Linked DNA regions of Homo sapiens: region 2 is linked to region 1. Evidence: fine-mapped expression QTL. A gene starts in region 1. The other region holds a variant in brackets. All regions are shown on one strand. Distances are between the middles of the regions.

The links. PIP is the estimated chance that this variant, and not a neighbour inherited with it, causes the effect.
Region 2: its variant is the best candidate, but not a certain one, in a credible set for the expression of ZNF789 in lung (TOPMed, PIP 0.60).

What each region holds. Positions count from the first base shown.
Region 1 is chr7:99,471,017-99,475,399 of GRCh38, forward strand. It overlaps ZNF789 (zinc finger protein 789), which reads left to right and starts at 1,874. Exons shown (of 5, transcript NM_213603.3): 1 at 1,874-2,040. RefSeq lists enhancers at 1,114-1,273, 1,494-1,583, 1,874-2,163.
Region 2 is chr7:99,387,629-99,392,011 of GRCh38, forward strand. ARPC1B (actin related protein 2/3 complex subunit 1B) reads left to right here. Exons shown (of 10, transcript NM_005720.4): 4 at 411-633; 5 at 2,277-2,384; 6 at 3,265-3,471; 7 at 3,550-3,625. Among named protein-coding and RNA genes, the nearest start is that of ARPC1B, 15 kb to the left of the region's middle. The variant G/A (reference allele first, on the strand shown) is at 1,896.

The DNA.
Region 1 (4,383 bases):
CCCGGCTAATTTTTGTATTTTTAGTAGTGACGGGGTTTCACCATGTTGGCCAGGCTGGTCTCGAACTCCTGATCTCAGGTAATCTGCCTGCCTTGACCTCCCAAAGTGCTGGAATTGCAGGCGTGAGCCACTGCACTCAGCCAACACACATATGTTTATTGCAACACTATTTACAATAGCAAAGACATGGAACCAACCCAAATGCCCATCAGTGGTAGACTGGATAAAGAAAATGTGGTACAAATACACCATGGAATACTAAGCAGCCACAAAAAGGAATGAGATCCTGTCCTTTGCAGGGACATGGATGAAGCTGGTGGCCATCAGCCTCAGCAAACTAACACAGGAACAGAAAACCAAACACAGCATGTTCTCATTCATAAGTGGGAATTGAATATTGAGAACGCATGGACACAGAGAGGGGAACAACACACACCTGGGCCTTTTGGGGAGTCGGGGGTAAGGGGAGGGAACTTAGAGGATGGGTCAATAGGTGCAGCAAACCACCATGGCACATGTAACAAACCTGCACGTTCTGCACGTGTATCCTGTTTGTTTTGTTTTGTTTAGAAGAAATAAAAAACAAACAAAACTTGGGAGGCCAAGGCAGGCGGATCACTTGAGGTCAGGAGTTCGAGACCAGCCTGGCCAAAATGGTGAAACCCCGTCTCTACTAAAAACACACACACAAAAAAAATTAGCCGGGAGTGGTAGCGGGCGCCTGTAGTCCCAGCTACTCAGGAGGCTGACGCAGGAGAATGGCGTGAACCCGGGAGGCGGAGCTTGCAGTGAGCCGAGATCGCGCCACTGCACTCCAGCCTGGGCGAGAGCGAGACTGTCTCAAAAAAAAAAGAAAAAAAATTAACCCCTTACTCACATTAAAACTGTATTTTGGGGGTAATTTACATAAGCCACACAATTATCCTTTTAATTAAGATCTAATATTCTTTTTTTTTTTTTTGAGACAGAGTCTCGCTCTGTCGCCAGTCTGGAGTGCAGTGGTGGGATCTCGGCTCACTGCAAGCTCCGCCTCCCGAGTTCAAGTGATTCTCCTGCCTCAGCCTCCCGAGTAGCTGGCACTACAGGCACGCCGCCACCATGCCCAGCTAATTTTTTTTTTTTTTTTTTTTTTTTTGAGACGGAGTCTCGCTCTGTCACCCAGGCTGGAGTGCGGTGGCGCAATCTCGGCTCACCGCAACCTCCGCCTCCCGGGTTCAAGCGCTTCTCCTGCCTCAGCCTCCCGAGTAGCCGGGGTTACAGGCAGGCACCACCATGCCCGGCTAATTTTATTTGTATTTTTAGTAGAGACGGGTTTCTCCATTGTTGGTCAGGCTGGTATCGAACTCCCGACCTCAGGTGATCCACCCGCCTCGGCCTCCCAGAGTGCTGGGATTACAGGCGTGAGCCACCGCGCCCGGCAATTTTTTTGTATTTTTAGTAGAGAAGGGGTTTCACCATGTTGGCCAGGATGATCTAAATCTCTTGACCTGATCCGCCGGCCTCTGCCTCCCAAAGTGCTGGGATTACAGGCGTAAGCCACCGCGCCTGGCCCATTTTTCTTCTTTTATCTGATAACCTTACTCCCCTCCACAAACACACAGCCAAAGAAACGAATTGTGTCGCTCTTGAATCATAGAATAATTCTAAATTATGTTACGATTAAACAGGAGGGGCGGGGCCCTGTCCATCACGTGACTCTCTCGGTGCTGTCTCCGGCCGTTGATTGGCCTGGGCGGGGAGGGCGGCCGTTGATTGGTTCGGGCCCACTCGCGCGGGCGCCACTCTCTTTGTCTGACAAGAGAGTCGTGAAGCCTCCGCGGTCCTAGAGGGGCCGCTGGCTGGGACGCTTCGCTCGGCGCGCGCAGGTGGAGCCAGCGAGAGGCTCTGAGGCTGCCAGAGTGGTTGTGTCTGTTCCTCCGGTAAGGGGTGATTCGCCGAGGGGCGCGGACCAGACAGACCTCGGGTCAGGCCCGGGAACCCCGAGAGGAGAGCCCAGCCCCTGGTGGAGGCGGCTTGGCGGAGATTCGGAGCCGTCAGCAGGTTTGGGGAGAAGGAAACGAGTGTTGTGGGGGGCGTGGGTGCGGGGGGTAGGCCACTGCGCACACCCCCGGCTCGCAGGGGACGCTCCGGGTTTGTGCGGCGGCTCTCGGGGCCTGTGGCACCAGCTTTTGAGTATTTTTGGCGGTGTCAAGTCTTCGGCAGCGAGAGGAGCAAAGTCCGAAGAATGAATGGATGGTGAACGCCTGGACTTGGTTTTGTTAGAGTGGGAGATGAGCCGTGGTTGTTAGTGGAAGGTGTTCACGTGATTGTGAAGCGGCATTTTGGATTTTGTCAAAAGTTAACAGTCCCCTCCAGTTAAAGTTTTAAGAGTTTATTGTGCATGCAGAGGAACAGCTGGCAAATTGTTCCAATGGCAGCTTGGAAAGCTAAATGAGGAAGTGCAGTGATCTTGATTGTAATTGGCCATTATCAACTTGCATTCCTTCTAGGGTAAGTCGAGCTGGATCAGCCTCGCATCTGTAGCTGATTGGTTCAGTTTATCATGCGGACGAGAAAAAAGCTTCTTTCCTGGTCAGCGCACACTTTTCAGGGAAATAAGGAATTGTTGTTGCTGTTGTGTTTGAGACGAAGTGTTACTCTGTTGCCCAGTTTGGAGTACAATGGGCCAATCTCGACTCACTGCAACCTCCAACTCCCGGGTTCAAGCGATTCTCCTGCCTCAGCCTCTCGAGTAGCGGGGACTACAGGCACGCGCCACCATGCCCGGCTAATTTTTGTATTTTTAGTGGAGACTGGGTTTCACTATGTTGGCCAGGCTGGTCTTGAACTCCTGACCTCATGATCCGCCCGCCTCGGCCTCCCAAAGTGCTGGGATTTACAGGTGTGAGCCACCACGCCCGGCCTGTTGTTTTTAAGAGAGACAGGGTCTTGCTCTGTCACCCAGGGTGGAGTGTAGTGGTGCCATCATAGCTCATTGCAGTCTCCAACTCCTGAACTCAAGGGAGAAATCAATGTATTTTAAATGCCTTACATGGCTGTGGGTGGTTGGCCTAGGGCCGTACCCAAAACATGGACTCCATTTAATTTTTCATTAGCAAGTCTGACATTCAGATGCACAGCCTTCACAAACACATTCAGTAAATATAGTGCAGGGGTGTCCAATCTCTTGGCTTCCCTGGGCCACATTGGAAGAAGAATTGTCTTGGACTACACATAAAATACACAAACACTAAAAATAGCTCATGAGCTAAAAAAAAATCGCAAAACAATTTCATAAGGTTTTAAGAAAGTTTACGAGCCGGGCGCGGTGGCTCACGCCTGTAATCCCAGCACTTTGGGAGGCCAAGGCGGGAGGATCACGAGGTCAGGAGATCAAGACCATCCTGGCTAACACGGTGAAACCCCGTCTCTACTAAAAATACAAAAAATTAGCGGGGCGTGGTGGCGGGCGCCTGTAGTCCCAGCTACTCGGGAAGCTGAGGCAGGAGAATGGCGTGAACCCGGGAGGCGGAGCTTGCAGTGAGCCGAGATCGCGCCACTGCACTCCAGCCTGGGCGACAGAGCGAGACTCCACCTCAAAAAAAAAAAAAAGAAAGTTTACGAATTTGTGTTGGGTTGGATTCAAAGTCGTCCTGGGCCATATGCGGTCCACAGGCTGAGGTTTGGACAAGTTTGGTGTAGAGAATGAAAGGGATGAGGCCTTTGCTCCAGCCTTGGAGCCATTGATCAGGATAGTTTTTAGAGTGTACCTCTTTGCTTAAAAGGCAGAGGGTCCACCCTGGGCAACATAGCAAGGCCCCACCTACAAAAGAACTACAAACAACTGGGCGTGGTGGTGCACTCTTGCAGTCCCATCTGCTTAGGAGACTGAGGCAGGAGCATTGCTTAAGCCCAGGAGTTGGAAGCTACAGTGAGCCATGATTACACCACTGCACTCCAGCCTGGGTGATAGAGGGAGACTCCTCAAAAAAAAAAAGAAAGGCAAAGGGTCTTCTAAACTGTTTTCAGGGAAGGTGAACTGTGTTTGAGGGGCATCCATTAAAATGAAAGTGAATTTCATTAAAATTCATCCTGAGTTAGAAAGCAAGTCTGTAGGCTGGGCGCAGTGGCTCACGCCTGTAATCCCAGCACTTTGGGAGGCTGAGGTGGGTGGATCACCTGAGATCAGGAGTTCAAGACCAGCCTGACCAACATGGTGAAACCCCATCTCAACTAAAAATACAAAAAAGTAGCTGGGCATGGCGGCGGGTGCCTGTAATCCCAGCTACTTCCGGAGGCTGAGGCAGGAGAATCGCTTGAACCCAGGAGGCGGAGGTTGCAGTGAGCAGAGATCACACCATTGTACTCCAGCCTGCACAACAAGAGTGAAACTCTGTTTAAAAA
Region 2 (4,383 bases), 83 kb before region 1:
TGGGAGGCTGATATGTGAGAATTGCTTGAACCCGGAAGATGGTGGTTCCAGTGAGCTGAGATCGTGCCAGTGCACTCCAGCTTGGGCGGCTGAGCGAGACTCTGTCTCAAAAAAAAAAAAAAAAAAAAAAGATTGGTGGTACACACCTGTAGTCCCGGCTACTCAGGAGGCTGAGGCACGAGGATTGCTTGAACCTGGGAGGCAGAGGCTGCAGTGAGCTGAGATCATGCCACTGCACTCCAGCCTGGGTGACAGAGCGAGACTCTGTTTCAAAAAAAAAAAAAAGTGCCTGCTGGGCAGATACAGCTTCCACCTGGATGGTGGCCTTTCAGCCTCTCCCATGTGGCCACCATACAGCCACCTCTGCCTGAGTGTCATCAGCCTCCTGTGTTCCCTCCATCCCCCCACAGGCATCGACTGGGCCCCCGAGAGTAACCGTATTGTGACCTGCGGCACAGACCGCAACGCCTACGTGTGGACGCTGAAGGGCCGCACATGGAAGCCCACGCTGGTCATCCTGCGGATCAACCGGGCTGCCCGCTGCGTGCGCTGGGCCCCCAACGAGAACAAGTTTGCTGTGGGCAGCGGCTCTCGTGTGATCTCCATCTGTTATTTCGAGCAGGAGAATGACTGGTGGGTACCTAGGCAGGGCCAGAGTGGGCTGTTAGGGACCGGGGGCAGGACTAGAGTGTCCCCGGGAAGCACCAAATGGGATGTCAGGACCCCTGTTCCCATCACCCTGGGGGAGTCCATCCTCTCCTCTCTGGGCCTCATTCATGAGGCAAGGGCCTCTCTGCAGCGTCCGGATGTTCTCACTGCCAGTGACACCCACCACACCAGAAACACATCTGGGGGCACCTCACTAAGCCCTGCACACACATTAGTCCTGACTTCCCTGCAGCTCCGTGGACTGGGCATCGGTCACTGTCCCCACTTTACAGATTAGCAAAGGCCCTGTAGCAGTCACTTTCTCAAGGCACCACTCACGAGCTCGCAGCCACATCTTGTTCCTTTTTTTTTTTTCAGATGGAGTCTCACTCTGTCACCCAGGCTGGAGTGCAGTGGCACGATCTTGGCTCACGGCAGCCTCTGCCTGCCGGGTTCGAGCAGTTCTCTGCCTCAGCCTCCCAAGTAGCTGGGATTACAGGCACCTGCTACCATGCCCGGATAATTTTTATATTTTTAGTAGAGATGGGGTTTCACCATCTTGGCCAGGTTGGTCTAGAACTTCTGACCTCATGATCCACCCGCCTCGGCCTCCCAAAGTGTTGGGATTACAGGCGTGAGCCACCGTGCCCAGCCAATTTTTTTTTTTTTTTTTTTTTTGAGACACAGTCTTGCTCTGTCGTCCAGGCTGGAGTGCAGTGGCACAATCTCAGCTCACCGCAACCTCTGCCTCCCAGGTTCAAGCAATTCTCCTGCCTCAGCCTACTGAGTAGCTGGGACTACAGGCACGCACCACCACGCCAGGCTAATTTTGTATTTTTTAGTAGAGATGGGGTTTCTCCATGTTGGTCAGGCTGGTCTTGAACTCCTGACCTCAGGTGGTCCTCCTGCCTCCGCCTCCCAAAGTGCTGGGATTACAGGCGTGAACCACTGCGCCCGGCCATATATATATTTTTGAGACAAGGTCTTGCTCTGTCGCTCAGGCTGGAGTGCAGTGTTGTGATCATAGCTCACTGCAGCCTCAGCCTCCTGAGCTCAAGTAATCCTACCACTTCAGCCTCCTGAGTAGCTCGGACTACAGGCCCAAATCATTTATTTATTTATTTTGTAGAGATAGGGTCTTGTCACGTTGTCCAGGCTGGTCTTGAACTCCTGGCCTCAAGCAATCTTCCCACCTCAGCCTCCCAAAGTGCTGAGACTACAGGTGTGAGCCATGATTGCCAGTCCAC[G/A]TCTTAGTTTTTAATCTCCCCTGCATGGCTGAGGGCAGAGGCCAGCCAGGAGCATCTGAGAGACCCAAATTTGCATCCCACCATGGCCAGTTAGTAGTTGTGTGACCTCTGGTGATGGCATCACTTTGCTGAGCCTGCTCTGAGGGTGACTGTGTGGCCTAAAGGATAGAGGGCACAGAGTTCCCACTCCAGAAGCGACACAGCACATCCCTGCCGCCCCAGGGCCCTGACGGCCTTGTGGGCTGGCAATGCCCAGTCGCCTCTCTCCTGGGTCTTTGGTGGGCTGCAGGGAGCAGTGGGAGCCTGGAGTCCCTGGTGCTGAGGTCCATGAGTCCCACCTGCCTGTCCCTCTCTCCCTGTCTGCCTGACCACCGTTCCCAGGTGGGTTTGCAAGCACATCAAGAAGCCCATCCGCTCCACCGTCCTCAGCCTGGACTGGCACCCCAACAATGTGCTGCTGGCTGCCGGCTCCTGTGACTTCAAGTGTCGGTGAGACAGGGCGCCATGGGGGAGGGCGGGGCTGACGTCAACTGACTGCTGACATCATAGCGGGGAGCCGCACCTGAAAGCTCTACACCCCAGCTTCTAGACACATTCCAGACCTGCTACCAGTGGATGACCTGGGCGTCGGTTGAAGGTTCTAGTTCCTGGGGAACCCTTCATGTCTCAGCTGGATGGGCCTCTGCCCACCTCTTTTATTTTTTTTGAGCTAGGGGCTTGCTCTGTTGCCCGGGCTGGAATGCAGTAGTGCAATCATAGCTCACTGCAGCCTCCAAATCCTGGACTCAAGCGATCCTCTTGCTTCTCAGCCTCCCAAGCAAGACTACCACGCCCAGCTAGACAGGATTTTTTTTTTTTTTTTGGAGACGGACTCTCGCTCTTTCGCCCAGGCTGGAGTGCAGTGGCGTGATATTGACTCACTGCAACCTCCGCCTGCTGAGTTCAAGCGATCAAGCGATTCTCCTGCCTTAGCCTCCTGAGTAGCTGGAACTACAGGCGCATGCCACCATGCCCGGCTAATTTTTGTATTTTTAAATGTAGAGACGGGTTTTCACCATGTTGGCCAGACTGGTCTCGAACCCCTGACTTCAAGTGATGCATCTGCCTCAGCCTCCCAAAGTGCTGGGATTACAAGCTTCAGCCACCATGCCCAGGCACCTGTTAACCCTTTAAAAAAAATTTTTTTTTTTTTTTGAGACAGTCTCACTCTGTTGCCCAAACTGGAGCACAGTAGCGCAATCACAGCTCACTGCAGCCTTGACCTCCTGGGTTCAAGCAATCCTCCCGCCTCAGCCTCCTGAGTAGCTGAGAGTACAGGTGCGCACCACCATGCCTGGCTACTTTACCTCTACTTTGCCTATCCCGGTAGGATCTTTTCAGCCTACATCAAGGAGGTGGAGGAACGGCCGGCACCCACCCCGTGGGGCTCCAAGATGCCCTTTGGGGAACTGATGTTCGAATCCAGCAGTAGCTGCGGCTGGGTACATGGCGTCTGTTTCTCAGCCAGCGGGAGCCGCGTGGCCTGGGTAAGCCACGACAGCACCGTCTGCCTGGCTGATGCCGACAAGAAGATGGCGTGAGTCGAGGCCATCCCCAGGGGAGGAGGTGAGTGCAGAGGAGTGGGACACCGTGACTCACAGCTCTCTCCCCTCAGCGTCGCGACTCTGGCCTCTGAAACACTACCACTGCTGGCGCTGACCTTCATCACAGACAACAGCCTGGTGGCAGCGGTGAGGAATAGGGAGGGGAGGGAGGGTGTGTGGTCACAGCAGGCCTCCGAGAGAGCCCAGCAACTCTCATCTCCTCCCTCCTTTCTCCTGCCTCCCTCCTTTTTTTCTTCCTTGCATTCTCTCATGTACCAGAATTGGGCAGAACAGGTTGGGTTATGCTGCAGTAACCAAAAGTCCCTGGCTGCAGTTGCTTAACAGAGTAAAGATTTGGCCAGGTGCGGTGGCTCACACTTAAAATCCCAGCACTTTGCGAGGTTGAGGTGGAAGTATCACTGGAGGCCACGAGTTTGAGACCAGCCCGGGCAACACAGTGTGAGACCCTTGTCTCTACAAAAAGTTAAGAAATTAGCTGGGTGTGGTGGTGCACCTGTAATCTCATAATCCCAGTTACTTGGGAGGCTGAGGCAGGAGGATAACTTAAGCATGGGAGGTCGAGGCTTCTGAACTGAGCTATGGTCGTACCTCTGCACTTCAGCCTCGGCGACACAAAACCTGTCTCAAAAAAAAAAAAAAAAGAGCCAGGCCCGGTGGCTCACACCTGTAATCCCAGCAATTTGGGAGGCCAAGGAGGGCAGATCACCTGAGGTCAGGGGTTCAAGACCAACCTGGCCAACATGGCAAAACCCCATCTCTACTAAAAATACAAAAATTAGCCGGGTGTGGTGGTGGGCGCCCATGGTCCCAGCTGCTCGGGAGGCTGAGGCAGGAGAATTGCTTGAACCCAGAGGCAGAAGTTGCAGTGAGCCAAGGGTGAGCCA